Linked DNA regions of Homo sapiens. The protein of the gene in region 2 interacts with the protein of the main gene of each other region in a biochemical or structural test. Each region holds a gene or a part of one and is shown on either strand. Other genes may lie near its edges.

Region 1 (6,026 bases), on a different chromosome or scaffold from region 2:
GGTGGTGAGCACCTGTAATCCCAGCTATTCGGGAGGCTGAGGCAGGAGAATTGCTTGGACCCAGGAGGCGGAGGTGGCAGTAAGCCAAGATTGTGCCACTGCACTCCAGCCTGGGCGACAAGAGCAAAACTCCATCTCAAAAAAAAAAAAAAAAAACCCACCACATAATGCAAGAACTCTCACCCTAAAGCTAGAGGCAGCAATATGCTCCCCCAAAAAACAAATTATAGTCTCTTACCCCACCTAATGAACTATGAAAGATAACTGAGTAGTCAAATAAATTAATCTTTTAGGTATAATTTCTCCATAGAATAGACTCAATAAAAGAATTGGGAGAAAAGTGCTTCAATTAAGCAAAGATCTAAATACTCTAAACAAGGCCAACCTCTTAACCTAAGCTGATTATTTCCATGCAAGAAAATTTAATTCTATAACAGCAGATATAAAATCAACTTGTAATAATAAAGACAAAAGTTTCAAAGAAAAACCATAAACACAAATGCAAACTGAATCCTGCTTTAATTCAAGCTTGTGGAGAACAAAGTCCTACAGAAACATTCCACAGAATTTTCTGGAAAAGAGGGATCACAACAACCCTGTAAAAAGGAGACTGAGAGTAATTCATAGCTCACCAAGTTCTCTCCGTATCAAATTTCCAGAATACCCACAAGATTTCTTCACCAGCTCAGTCCTGACTCAACCTCTTCAATCTTTATTTCATTAGAAGACAAAGGGTCATATTATTTAAAATTATTCTAGTCTCAAGAAATTTAAAGACTTGAAGTAGTAGAGCATTCAAAACTTAAATAACTTTAACAAGAAAGCCAGCTGATCTTAACAAGTTACTCTGCTAGTAAATGGGAAATAGACTGAATCATCCTAGACATAATTTCATTAGGGCTGCAAACCACCCAGGGGAGAGTAGCACAATTATACCATTTTGTAATCCACATTCACAAGAAGTTTGCTACACAAATGAAGAAAACTTTGTGCCCATAGACAACTTATTTTTTAAAATATCACTCCCCAAAAGTAGCCATGTTTCCACTTTTGTTCCCTTTTCCACATCAAAAATACCAACTTGATTTCTTCAGGAGGAATGGACAATCCAAGTTTATACAGTGGGCTGGAAAAAGAAAACACTGAAAAGTCTAAAAGCACAAAATAAACAAAGCTGGGAGGGAAGACAGTAAGAGTTATTTGTTTCTAATTCATTCTGAAACCCAAGGCTTGTATTTACCAGTCCTTTCTGCTAAAGTCATCCAGCTACTGAAGAGGAGAGCCTGGAAGTAAAGTCTGGAGGAAAGGTAGTTGACTGATAAACTGTCCTACAGGTGACAGTCAAGGAGAGAAGAGGTAGAGGTTTGGTGGTTAATGAATAAGTTCCTGACTAGCCAGCTCCTCTTCTTCTCTTGACTTAGATCAACCAATGTAGATGCGATGAAAATCATTGGCACCAAAAGCAGCATTACACTTGGGACATTTGCGCTGGCGGGTGTCATAGCGTGTCTTCACACACTCAAAGCAGAAGACATGAAAACACTTAGTAAGAACAGCATCCTTTTTACGCATGTTACAGCACGGACAGGTCAAGCGTGCCTAAAAAGAAAAGATGTCAGAGTTTGAACAACCATGAAAGTTTATGATCCAAATGGCTCTCATATACTACACAACCAAGAAGAAAACCCACAAGGCACTAAAAAAAGAGCATCATTTCCCCCCAACCTCCAAAATAAACCATTCTCTGGTTACTATCATGCAAATTATTCTCCCAGTCTATTAGGCCACTTAAAGCTTTGACAAAAAACTAATCACTAAGGCATTTTTTCTAACCTTGTAATCCTTAATCTCTTCCATCAGAATCTCATCACACTTGGGTACATTGTCTGGTTTCTTTGTGGTCTCCAGCTTCCTGCGAAGTCTAGAGATGTCCTCCTGTGGCAGGATAGCATACCCATTAGACACACTTACCCAAATCTATCATTTTTGAGAAAAATAATAGACTTGAGTTTTCTGTTGTGAAAAGAGGGGACTTTCTATCCTTTTATGGTCAATTATCTTGTAGAAATGTAGAGAACTGCAAATGGCAGGATATTTTCTTTTGTTTCAGAAGAGGCAACCATAATTATATCCCCAAATTAGAATTGCATCTATTACCAATTCAGTCCTGTGAAAACACATCTAAGAGTTTAGAGGACAGTCTATTTTGTTTTATAGTAATTAGTTTTAAGCTGAAGGTAGAACGGTTTAAAATAATTCAGAGACTTACGGATAAAGACAGAAAGACATCATGAGAAACAGCTAGCATGACAAAAATAGAGACATTATACAAGAACTTGAAAATCCTCTACTGCTGCTATGCTGTTACTTCTTTAACAATTTACTAATTCATTAATTTAACAAATATTTATTTTGTGCCTACTAGGTGCAAGGCACCATAAAAGAGTCTGAGGATATGGCAGTGAAGAAAACAGACTTACTCTCTTCCCTCAACAAACTTCCTCAAGTCTAGTAGGAAATGACATACATTGGACTAATGATTCTTTCATGATATGGGTCACTTCCGACCTCAGAAAACACCTAAAAGGTGACAAGAAAAGACAACTGCTTTTACCTGGGCTCGTTTGAAATTGAACATGTCCTTTTCTTTGGTAACACTGTTCTCCACGATCTCATCCTGAAAATCATGTAGCTTCTTCTGAGCCAACTCCAGTTGTGCTTTGAGGTCATCTGCAAGCTGGGCTGCCTCCATTGCCTATGTAGGATGTACAAATAAGTGACACCATTGTATCACCTATTATTGCCAGTGAGGCAAAATGTTAGCCCAAGTTGAAGGAATAAAGCGAACTTACAATCTCAACAGTGTTATACTTATTTGTTCCACTGAGACTAACCATCATTAGATTAATCAATCATACCTTGCGTTTATTCATCTCTAAGGCTTGGGTCCTAAGACCCAGCTCTTTCTCCCCTGTGCCAATGTTGCTCTGTAACAGATGCTCCTTCTCTTCCAGTTTCCTTACTACCTGTAGCTGGGCATCAACCTTTGAACAGAAAATCAGATTTTAACACAAATGAAAAGATTAAAAAAAGAAAAAAAACTATTCTGTTAATCTATAAGCCCACAAAATACAGTATGTTAGAAATCTCAAACTATTACTGATTTTGCCCATGAACCCTTCAAAATACATCAAGACTATGATAACTGAAAGCTTTACTTTTAATATAAAATATTGTGGAAGATTCAGTAAGAGTCTGAAAAATGACTGAAAAGATTCTTTTCCAAATTGCCAAAAATAGAGAATGCATGCTAATGCTTAAAACCTGGCAATTCATACTATAACATATAAATTAGAACTCAAACAAAAGTCCAAGAGTATTTCCTTCAGAATGGCTAGACATTCTAAAAGAGTCTTTTTTGAAATTAATGCACAAAGTAGAATCAAACAATATTAAAGTGTAAAAAGTAAAATCACAAACACCCACCTCCTAACCTCACCCACAACTCATCCCAATATGTAGAGGTAACCATTCTAACAGTTTCTCACACTGCCTTCAAAAAGCATATCAAAAAGATAGTCCACCATGATCAAGTGGGTCTCACACCAGGGATACAGGGATGGTTTGACATCCACAAGTCAATAAATCTGATACACCATATAAACAGAATTTTTAAAAAATCACATGATCATCTCAATAGATGCAGAAAAAGCATTTGACAAAATCCAGCATCCTTTTATGATTAAAACTCTAGCAAAATCAGCATAGAAGGGACATACCTTAAGGTAATAAAAGCCATCTATGACAATCCCACAGCCAACATTATACTGAACAAGGAAAAGTTGAAAGCATTCCCCCTGAGAACTGGAACAAGACACAGATGCCACTCTCACCACTTCCATTCAACATGGCACTGGAAGTCCTAGCCAGAGCAATCAGACAAGAGAAAGAAATAAAAGGCATCCAAATTGGTAATGAGGAAGTCAAACTGTCACTGTTTGCTGATTACATTATCATATACCTAGAAAACCCTAAAGACTCATCCAGAAAGGTGCTAGAACTGGTAAATGAATTCAGCAAAGCTTCACTATACAAAATTAATGTACACAAATCAGAGCTCTGCTATACACCAACAGCAACCAAACTGAGAATCATATCAAGAACTCAAACCCTTTGACAACAGCTGCAAAAAAAATAAAATAAAATACTTAGGAATATACTTAACCAAGAACGTGAAAGACCTCGACAAGAAAAATTACAAAACACTGCTGAAAGAAATCACAGATGACACAAACAAATGGAAACACATCCCATGCTCGTGGATGGGTAGAATCAATATTGTGAAAATGACCATACTGCCAAAAGCAATCTACAAATGAAATGCAATTCCCATCAAAATACCAACATCATTCTTCACGGAACTAGAACAAACAATCCTAAAACGCATATGGAACCAAAAAAGAGCATACATAGCCAAAGCAAGACTAAGCAAAATGAACAAATCTGGAGGCATCACATTACCTGACTTCAACCTATACTATAAAGCCATAGTCACAAAAACAGCATGGTACTGGTATAAAAATAGGCATGTAAACCAATGTAACAGAATAGAGAACCCAGAAATAAAGCCAAATACGTAGTCAACTGATCTTTGACAAACCAAACAAAAACATAAAGTGGGAAGGGACACCCTATTCAACAAATGGTGGTAGGATAATTGGCAAGCCACATGTAGAAGAATGGAACTAGATCCTCATCTCTCACCCTATACAAAAATCAACTCAAGATGGATCAAAGACTTAAATCTAAGACCTGAAACCATAAAAATTCTAGAAAGCAATATTGGAAAAATCCTTCTAGACAATGGCTTAGGCAAAGACTTCATGACCAAGAACCCAAAAGCAAATGCAACAAAAGAAATGATAAATAGATGAAACTTAATTAAACGAAAAAGCTTCTGCACAGCAAAAGAAATAATCATCAGGGTAAACAGACAACCCATAGAGTGGGAGAAAAAAATCTATACATCCAACAAAGGACTAATATCCAGAATCTACAAGGAACTCAAACAAATCAGCAAGAACAAAACAAACAATCCCACCAAAAAGTGGGCTAAGGACATGAATATACAATTCTCAAAAGAATATATACAAATGGCCAACGAACATAAGAAAAATGTTCAACATCATTAATTATCAGGGAAATGTAAATCAAAACCTCAATGCAACACCACCTCACTTTGCAGGAATGGCCATAATCAAAAAATCAAAAAATAATAGGTGTTGGCATGGATGTGATGAAAAGGGAACACTTTTACACTGTTGGTGGGAATGTAAACTAGTACAATCACTATGGAAAACAGTATGGAGAGTCCTTAATGAACTAAAAGTAGACCTACCACTTGATTCCGCAATCCCACTTCCGGGTATCTACCCAGAGGAAAAGTCACGCCATGGAATACTACTCAGCCATAAAAAGGAACAAAATAATGGCATTCACAGCAATCCGGATGGAATTGGAATTGGAGACCAATATTCTAAGTGAAGTAACTCAGGAATGGAAAACCAAACATTGTATGTCCTCACTCATAAGTAGGAGCTAAGCTGTGAGGACGCAAAGGCATAAGAATGATACAATAAACTTTGGTGACTTGGCGGAGGGAGGCAAGGGACAACAGACTACACACTGGGTACAATAGACTACACACTGGGTACAATGTACACTGCTTGGGTTATGGGTGCACCAAAATCTTGGTATCACCACTAAAGAACTTATTCATGTAACCAAACACCACATGTTCCCCAAAACCTATGGAAATTTAAAAAAAAAAAAAAAAAAGTAAAATCACACATACCTCCTAACCTCACCCACAACTCATCCCAATATCCAGAAGTAACAATTCTAACAGTTTCTCATGCAGCCTTCCAGAAATTTTTAAAATATACAGCACAGGAACACAAGTAAACATATACTTTAACGCAAAAAGGATAACAAAACACGTCACTTGATTTTATTTCAGACATGTT
Region 2 (7,659 bases):
GCTGGCACTACAGGCGCCTGCCACCACCACCATGCCCAACTAACTTTTGTATTTTTAGTAGAGATGGGTTTTCACCTGCTGGCCAGGCTGGTCTTGAACTCCTGACCTCAGGTGATCTGCCCGCCTCGGCCTCCCAAGTGCTGAGATTACAGGCGTGAGCCACCGCGCCTGGCCTTAAGAGTCCACTTTTTAGATGCTCACATCAGCATCTTGTTTCTACAGTAACTTGTTCAGAGTAAAAAAAAAATGATAGGATTAAAATATTTTAATGACATAACTGAACAGTAACTTCTTCAAGCTAGAAATACTACTGCCGCCTTTTATATAGAGCTATTGTTAAAACTGTATGTCAAAGTTTCAACAAGAAAGATACTCACCACCATCCCTCTCTCTAACTCTGTGAGTATGCACATTTTTGGCCTTACTGTGACCTGTGCTGTCACTGTATTTGTTTTCAGGACTATCAGATCTCCGCAACATTTTATTTGGTGGTGAAGGATCTCCGGCGTCTCGCATCTTTTCATGTCTGTGATCACCGCTACTGGGGTGACTCTTCGATGAATACTTAAGTGCCTGTAAAACATCACCCCCCCAAAAAAAGAGAGAAAGAATTGAAACCTTAAACTCCCTAATTTAAACATAAACTTTGGTGTATTATCATTAAATTTTATGAACTTACAAAATTAAAATTTCCACTTTCAATTCTGCTTTACTCTTTAAAGTTTCTCAGACAAAAAACCTAATGCTTAAGCGTTACAATAAGACTCCTGATAACAAATCACACTAAACACAAAAAAAACCCACTCCATTATCTTATAAACCACCTTGCACACTGATTCTGCAAAAAATAAAAAAATTTGGCTGAGAATATTTAGAATCATTTTTTGATAGTCAAAAGAAAACTAGAAATTCAGTACTACTATAATCAATTTCTGCTCTACAGCTGATATACACAAACACATGTATAAATAAGCACATGCATATTTTTGCAAACCTACCAAAAAAAAAAAAAAAAACCCACACACCAGTTTCTCCAATTCTTTGATTCAAATAAAGCATTTCAGACCTAACTTCCTTACTCTCCCAGGTGTGGGAAACAATTTTAAGGTATAAAAATACTAACCAAAATAAACTAATGTGAGTACTATTTCTAACTAAGCATAATGCGCTCAAAATAATCGTTTAGCTTTATTCTAACACATATCTTAAGACAATCATGATGTACTAATCTGTTGCAATGTGTAATCAGCTATGCTTTGGAGGACAGATTCAGTAAAGTTTAATTTTTGACATATCCAATGTTTTACATATCAGAAGACAGTGTTTTCAAATTCAGCTGTATAACACAACCATCAGGTTAGAAACCTGCTCTCTAGTCCTTTAAGATGTAGAAAGTGTTTTCTGCAGTCATCTGATGGTTAACAATCATTATGAGGTTTCCCTCCTGAAAATTGGGGCCACTTTCATCATAATCCTTAGAACTTCACACACAATGACTGCAGTAACAAAAAGGAACCCACCTACCTAGAACCACCTACATCAGAATGATTATCCAAGTACCCAAAGACCTCAATTCTTACAGAAACAAAAGCACACATATCTTTTACTTGTAAGGCAATTAAGTATACCAAAAATATTAAAAGGGGAAAGGGTAGTACTTTATAACCGACTTGAAAGTTGTAAGTCATTTAGCTATTTACCCAAGTTCTTCACTTAATTTTAATACCTTTACATTAACTTTTCAGTTCCCCCAACACAATAAATAAATAAATAAGCCTCGTAAGTCACCTATCATCTCATCCCATCGATTCCTTCACTCGCAAATAATCAAATAATCGAGTCAGGTCTTTCTGGCTGCAAATGATTCTTTTTTCCTAAATCAGCGAACTCCCTCCAGTCACCTGTCAAAATAAGTCACTAAACCTTGCTGGAGAGCGCTAAAGGAACCAAACCTGGAATTTTAAGGGGATCCGCGGTGCTAGTTTCAGATGTGTTGCACCGAAGGGCCTGTATCGACTTCTGAGGCCTGCGCTCGAGTAGCAGTCCCTCCCTTCCCCCTCCGGCCCCTTCCAATCCCTCCACCCCGGCCTCGGCTGGTACCTGGTAAGGCTGCGAGTCCCCCCTCCGGTCGTGACAGCTGAAAAACAGGAAGAGAAGGCAGCGACATAAGACACGGCGCGGGTGGGGGGCCGGGGAGGAAGAAAACGGGGCCCCCGCCGCCCCTCCCCGCGGGAGACCTACCGAGCGCCCCAGCGCCGAGCCCCGCACGCACACGGCACAAACCCGGAGCCTCCGGAAGGGCCGGAGAGGGCGAAATGCCGCGAAGCCGGGCCCCCGCTCCCCGCCACACTGCGTTCCCGCCCGCCCGCCCGCGCGGCCGCTCCTCCTCCCCAACCCGATCCGGATCAGGGTTAACAACAAAAATGGCGGCCCGGCCAGCTCCAGATAAGGAGGAACAGCCCCCCCGCCGCCGCCCCCCGCCGCCGCCCGGCCCGAAACGAAAAGACAATTTACCCATCACTGAGTCTCTGCTGTTTCCTCGCATACATTACCATCAATGCCCGGCCTGTGAGTGTGTGTCGGGGAGGGGGGAGAGCGGCCGCGAAAGGCGGGCGGGCGCGCAGGCGGCGGCGGCGGCGGGCGGCGGGCAGCCCCGGCACCTGGGCCCGGCGCGCCCTCGGCGACTCTCATCAGCTCCCAGTTACTGGCGCCGGCGCTCCCGGGCCATCTCCCTCCGTCGACACCACGCTCACTCTCAGCCGGGGCAGCGGCGCCAACTACACGGCGGCACCGCGAACCGGGGGGAGGGGGGCAAGACGACGCGTCCGGCTCAGCCCCGCGGAGAGCGACTGCCTCCTCCGCCTTCTCCTCCTCCTGCTCCGCCGCCTCCTCCCCTCCTCCCCCCGCCGCCGCCGCTGCTGCCGCCGCCTGGTCCTTCTTCTCCTCCTCCTCCTCCCGCCGCCGCCGCCGCCGCTGGTGCCGCCGCTGCCGCTCCACCAACTACATCCGGGCAACTCGGACGCTGCCGCCTTCGGGAAACCTCGGCAGTTTCCGCCGGGCCCCTCCTCTCCCACCCTCGGCCTTCCTCCCCGCACCGCGCGGGTCCGGAACACCGCCCTCGGCAAACCTCGGCTGGCTCCGGCCTTTCTCCTCCTCTGAGGCCTGGATCTTCTCTTCGCGACCAGTCTGCCCTTTCCTTCTTTTCCTCACTCGCGAGTCGGCCACCGCCGTTCCCGTTTAGGGATAGTCTCGCTCGGGCGCCTGCTCGAGGCTGATCTCAGGGGCTCCGGGCTGCGCAGGGAGGGAGCCGCCTTCCGGAAGAGGACGGTGGGGCGCGAGGGAAGCCATCGCGGACTAAATAAGGGAGGCTGCAGCGGCTGCGCGTGCGCCCAGAGGCGCAGCGGGAGGGGGTGCTCTCGGGCGAGCTCTCCGGCCGCGGCCCCCGCCCCTGCGCTGTCGGGCGGGGAGGTCGGAAACCCCCTGGCGAGACCACGGGCGGACGCTTCCCGAAGAGCTGCCTGGGCTGCAGCCGCGGAAGCTGCGTTCTGGGGAGCGGGGAGCGTGCTCCGGCGCCTTCGGGCCGCTGCTGGAAGCCGGAACCGAGCCCGGGCCGCTGCCCCTCACCGGACGCCGCGCGCCACCGGCCCTCCGCGGGGCAGGGGCTGCTGCGAGCTCGCCGGGCGCCCTTTAGACGTAAGTCTCACCCTGCGCCCCGAGGCAGGAAGGAGCGCGTGCAGTCCCGGCCAGAAACGGCTAATAGGAAGGGCTGAGGGGTTCTGTGTTCAAGGCAGAAGGCCGTGCGTCAGGGCGGCCCTCAGCGGAGATGCGTGCACGGAGCGGGGAGCGCCGCTCGGGGCAGGGAATGAAAGCGGCGCTTGAGACTGGAAATTTAGGGAGATGAGTTCCTTGGGAACAACGCTGAACCATCTCACTGCCCCACCCTACCCCTTGTTATTTTTTTTTGAGACAGGTCTCGCGCTGTCGTCCAGTCTGAGTGCAGTGACGCGATCACGGCTCACTGCAGCCTCGACCTCCGGGGCTTACGGGTCATCCCACCTCAGCCCTCTAAGTAGCTGGCACCACGGGCATGCACCACCACACCCGGCTAATTTTTTAAAAAAAGTTTTTCCGGAGATAGGGTCTCGCTGTGTTACCCAGGCTGGTCTCGAACCCCTGGCCTGAAGCGATCCTCCCGCCTCGGCCTCCCAAAGTGCTGGGATTACAGGCGTGAGCCACTGCGCTCGGCTTTTCACCCCTTTCTAACGTTTTCCATCCCTTTCTAACGTTTTCCATACCCAGCGGTGCCCTGCCCACCCTCTCTTTATCTCTCACTTTTCCCTCCTCTGTTTCTTCCTCGCTGAAGTCCATTGGTGAAAGAAAATTCATGTGAAAGTTCTCAGGTGTGTTAAGTGAAATTGCTACAAATTTGATTTTATGTACTGCTGCAGGTACATTGAGAGAAGAAACGTGAAGTATACCAAACAACCGTTAGTTGAGAGTGGTGGTATTCGGGTGATTGGTTGACTTTTTTTTTTTTTTTTGCACTATTTGTAAGGCAACATAGTTTAATGAAAAGAATTGTGGTAAACATAATTAGGTGATTAACACAGAAGAGGCAAATAGTAAACAAGTCAGAAGAAACAACCCCCTCCAAAAAATAAAAAGTAACTGATTTACTTGGTATCCAAGAAGTTACGTTATTGCTAGACCTAATAGAATGGAGAGATGGAATGATGTAGGGAGAAAGGCTCTGAAATCACAACTGGTTGGAAAAAAAATTTTAATTACATAATCTTATTTGTCACATCCATCTGCCAGATGTAGAGCTTATTGCTGTTTGTGGAGATGTGCAGACCAATAAAAAGCCTATTTAATGCTCTCTTAAACTACCAGTAACTAAAAAAAAAAATTGACAGTGACTGAAATTATGAAAACAAAAAAATTCGGTAGCATCTTAACATGTAATTTCTGACATATTTGTAGTGAATCCATTGAAGACAAACATCAGAGGAGTACAACAAATAACATTTCATAGAAACTTTGAAAACTGGCAGCAAAATTACTACTAATTTGTTTGATAACTAGATGTCTGCTGAAATTGGTATAAACCATTTGCTCAAAAGTAGCCAGGCATGGTGATGCATGCCTGTATTCCTAGCTACTCCCAGAGGCTGAAGCTGAACAATCACTTTAGTCCAGGAGTTCGAGACTGCAGTGAGTCATGATCACACCAGTGCACTCCAGCCTGGACGACAGAGGGAGACCCTGTCTCAAAAAGTAAATAGGCCGGATGCAGTGGGTCATGCCTGTAATCCCAGCACCTTGGGAGGCCAAGTCAGGTGGATCATTTTGAGGTCTGGAGTTTGAGACTAGCCTGGCCAACATTTTGAAACCCCATCTGTACTAAAAATATAAAAGTTAGCCAGGTGTGGTGGTGTGCGCCTGTAATCCCAGTTATTCGGGAGACTGAGGCAGGAGAATCACTTGGGCCTGGGAGGCGGAGGTTGTGGTGAGCCAAGATCTTGCCACTGCACTCCAGTCTGGGTGACAGTGAGACACTGTCTCTAAATAAAACCACATTATCAAAAGTCTGATCTGCTCTCCTTTACAGAAATACTTTATCTTTACTTCTCTCTCGAACCCACAGACTTCATTCCCACACTTCTGGACCTGTTCAAGATCATCTGTAGCATCCATGTTTTCAAGTCTGATTTTTATTTCTCAGTCTTCATCTCCACTTGTCAGCAGCATTTGACACAGCTGATAACTTTCTTCTCCTTAAAGTTCCTTATCTTGCCTACCAGGATTTCATTTTCTTTCTTGCTTCTCTTCCTTCCCAAATGGCTGTTCCTTAGACTCCTTACTGGTTTCTCCTTCTTTTCCAGCCTCTAAATGCTGGAGTGGCGTGAGATTCAAATCTTACAACCCGCACTCCTCTGTTCTCTCTCCCTAGGCAATCTCATTCAGATCTCTGGCTGGATGAAACCCACATTTGAATTTCCAGTCCACACCTTTCCTCTGAACACAAGACTCACACTTAACTGCCTACTGTATAGCACTGCTTGAGTTTCTAACAGGCATCACAAACTTAATGTATTCAAAACGAAACTCTTAATCTCCCCCCACCCCAAACAAGTCCTGCTGAGATCTTCCCAATCTCTTGAAATGACAACTCCATTCTTCTAGTGGAGGCTAAAAACTTTGGAGTCATCTTTGATTGTTTTATATCTCACATTGACTCCATCAACAAATTTTGCCAGCATTACCTTCAAAATGTATCCACAATCTGATCTCTGTAACCCACCTCCAGCAAGTTCACTCTGGTCCAAGCCACCATCATTAAACCTGGACCGTGGCAAAGGCTTTCTAACTGATCTTGCCCTTCTATGCCTGCTTCCACATTGTTTGCTGTCTCATACAGTGCAGTAATCCCTTAAAAAGTCAGATAATATTCCAATCTTGAATAAAAGCCAAAGTTATAGCCATGATCCACTAGGCCATATGTAAACTGCCTGTTACTTCTGGCTTCTTATCCACTGACTTCTTTATTTGCTCTTTTTTTGTTTTTGTTTTTGTTTTTGTTTGAGACTGATTCTCACTGTCGCCAGGCTGGAGTGCAGTGGGATGATCTTGGCTCACTGCAACCTCTGCCTCCCAGGTTCAAGCAATGCTCCTGCCTCAGCCTCCTGAGTAGCTGGGACTACAGGCACGTGCCACCACACCCAGCTAATTTTTGTATTTTTAGTAGAGACGGGGTTTCACCATGTTGGCCAGGATGGTCTCCATCTCTTGACCTCGTGATCCACCCACCTCAGCCTCCCAAAGTGCTGGGATTACAGGCGTGAGCCACCGCGCTCAGCCCTGCTTTCTCATTCTTTTCCCACCATTCTACCCTCCCTCCCTGTTTTCTCCAGTATACCAAGCATGCCTCTGCCTCAGGACCTTTGCACTGCTGTCCCTTTGCCTGGAATCCTCTTCCCCCTTAGTACTTGCTTGGCTCACACCCTCACTTCTTCAGGTCTCTGCTTAAGTCTTGTCTTGTTTAATTGAGAACTCTACATGATGGCGCCCTACCACCATGTTGCTCCCTTAACCCTGATCTATTTTTCCTAAACCATTTGCCATATATTTTGTTTATTGGTTGTTTCCCACTAGAATGAATGCTTCATGTGGCATACCATAAATATTTGTTGAATTAAAGGATATTTGCCTGCAGAAACGTATACGATAAAAATAGCAAAATTGAATTCTCAAGAGGAAAAAGCTTGGGTTCTATTTCTGTTTGCTTTGTGAAAGAATAAAAGAATTACAAATCCAGTCCTGTTCTCACAAATAAGATGGAGGATAAAGCTAGATTATTCCTAATACAGGCAAAATATTGTAATAGATATTAAAAAATGTACATGAATTTGCATGTATAGCAAATCTTAAAGCAGATTATTTACACTGCTATCTAATGAGAAATATCAAGTTTGCAAATGAGTAAAAGACCCATATTTCAACCTGTAGACTGAATACATACCAACCAATAGAGGGGAAAAACTATCAACTCATAGGTTATATATAGGTTGACCAAGATTTTAATGTGATTCTATTGAAGGAAGAACTGAAGGAAGAACCAAAAAGTGAAATCCTCAAGCCTCTAGTTGTGAAAGGGAT

The links.
Region 1: the proteins of WAC (region 2) and RNF20 form a complex in vitro, tested with the Homo sapiens proteins (2 studies listed by BioGRID).

The regions. Positions count from the first base shown.
Region 1 is NC_000009.12:101,557,819-101,563,844, reverse strand, and holds the end of RNF20 (E3 ubiquitin-protein ligase BRE1A), read right to left. Parts: intron 3,045-6,026; coding exon 2,919-3,044; intron 2,756-2,918; coding exon 2,615-2,755; intron 1,936-2,614; coding exon 1,834-1,935; intron 1,600-1,833; coding exon 1,423-1,599; 3' UTR 501-1,422; downstream 1-500. UniProt on the Homo sapiens protein: Component of the RNF20/40 E3 ubiquitin-protein ligase complex that mediates monoubiquitination of 'Lys-120' of histone H2B (H2BK120ub1).
Region 2 is NC_000010.11:28,528,476-28,536,134, reverse strand, and holds the start of WAC (WW domain-containing adapter protein with coiled-coil), read right to left. Parts: upstream 3,018-7,659; 5' UTR 2,692-3,017; coding exon of another isoform or gene 2,556-2,691; coding exon 2,515-2,555; intron 2,138-2,514; coding exon 2,101-2,137; coding exon of another isoform or gene 1,953-2,100; intron 1,902-1,952; exon of another isoform or gene 1,789-1,901; intron 592-1,788; coding exon of another isoform or gene 574-591; coding exon 378-573; intron 1-377.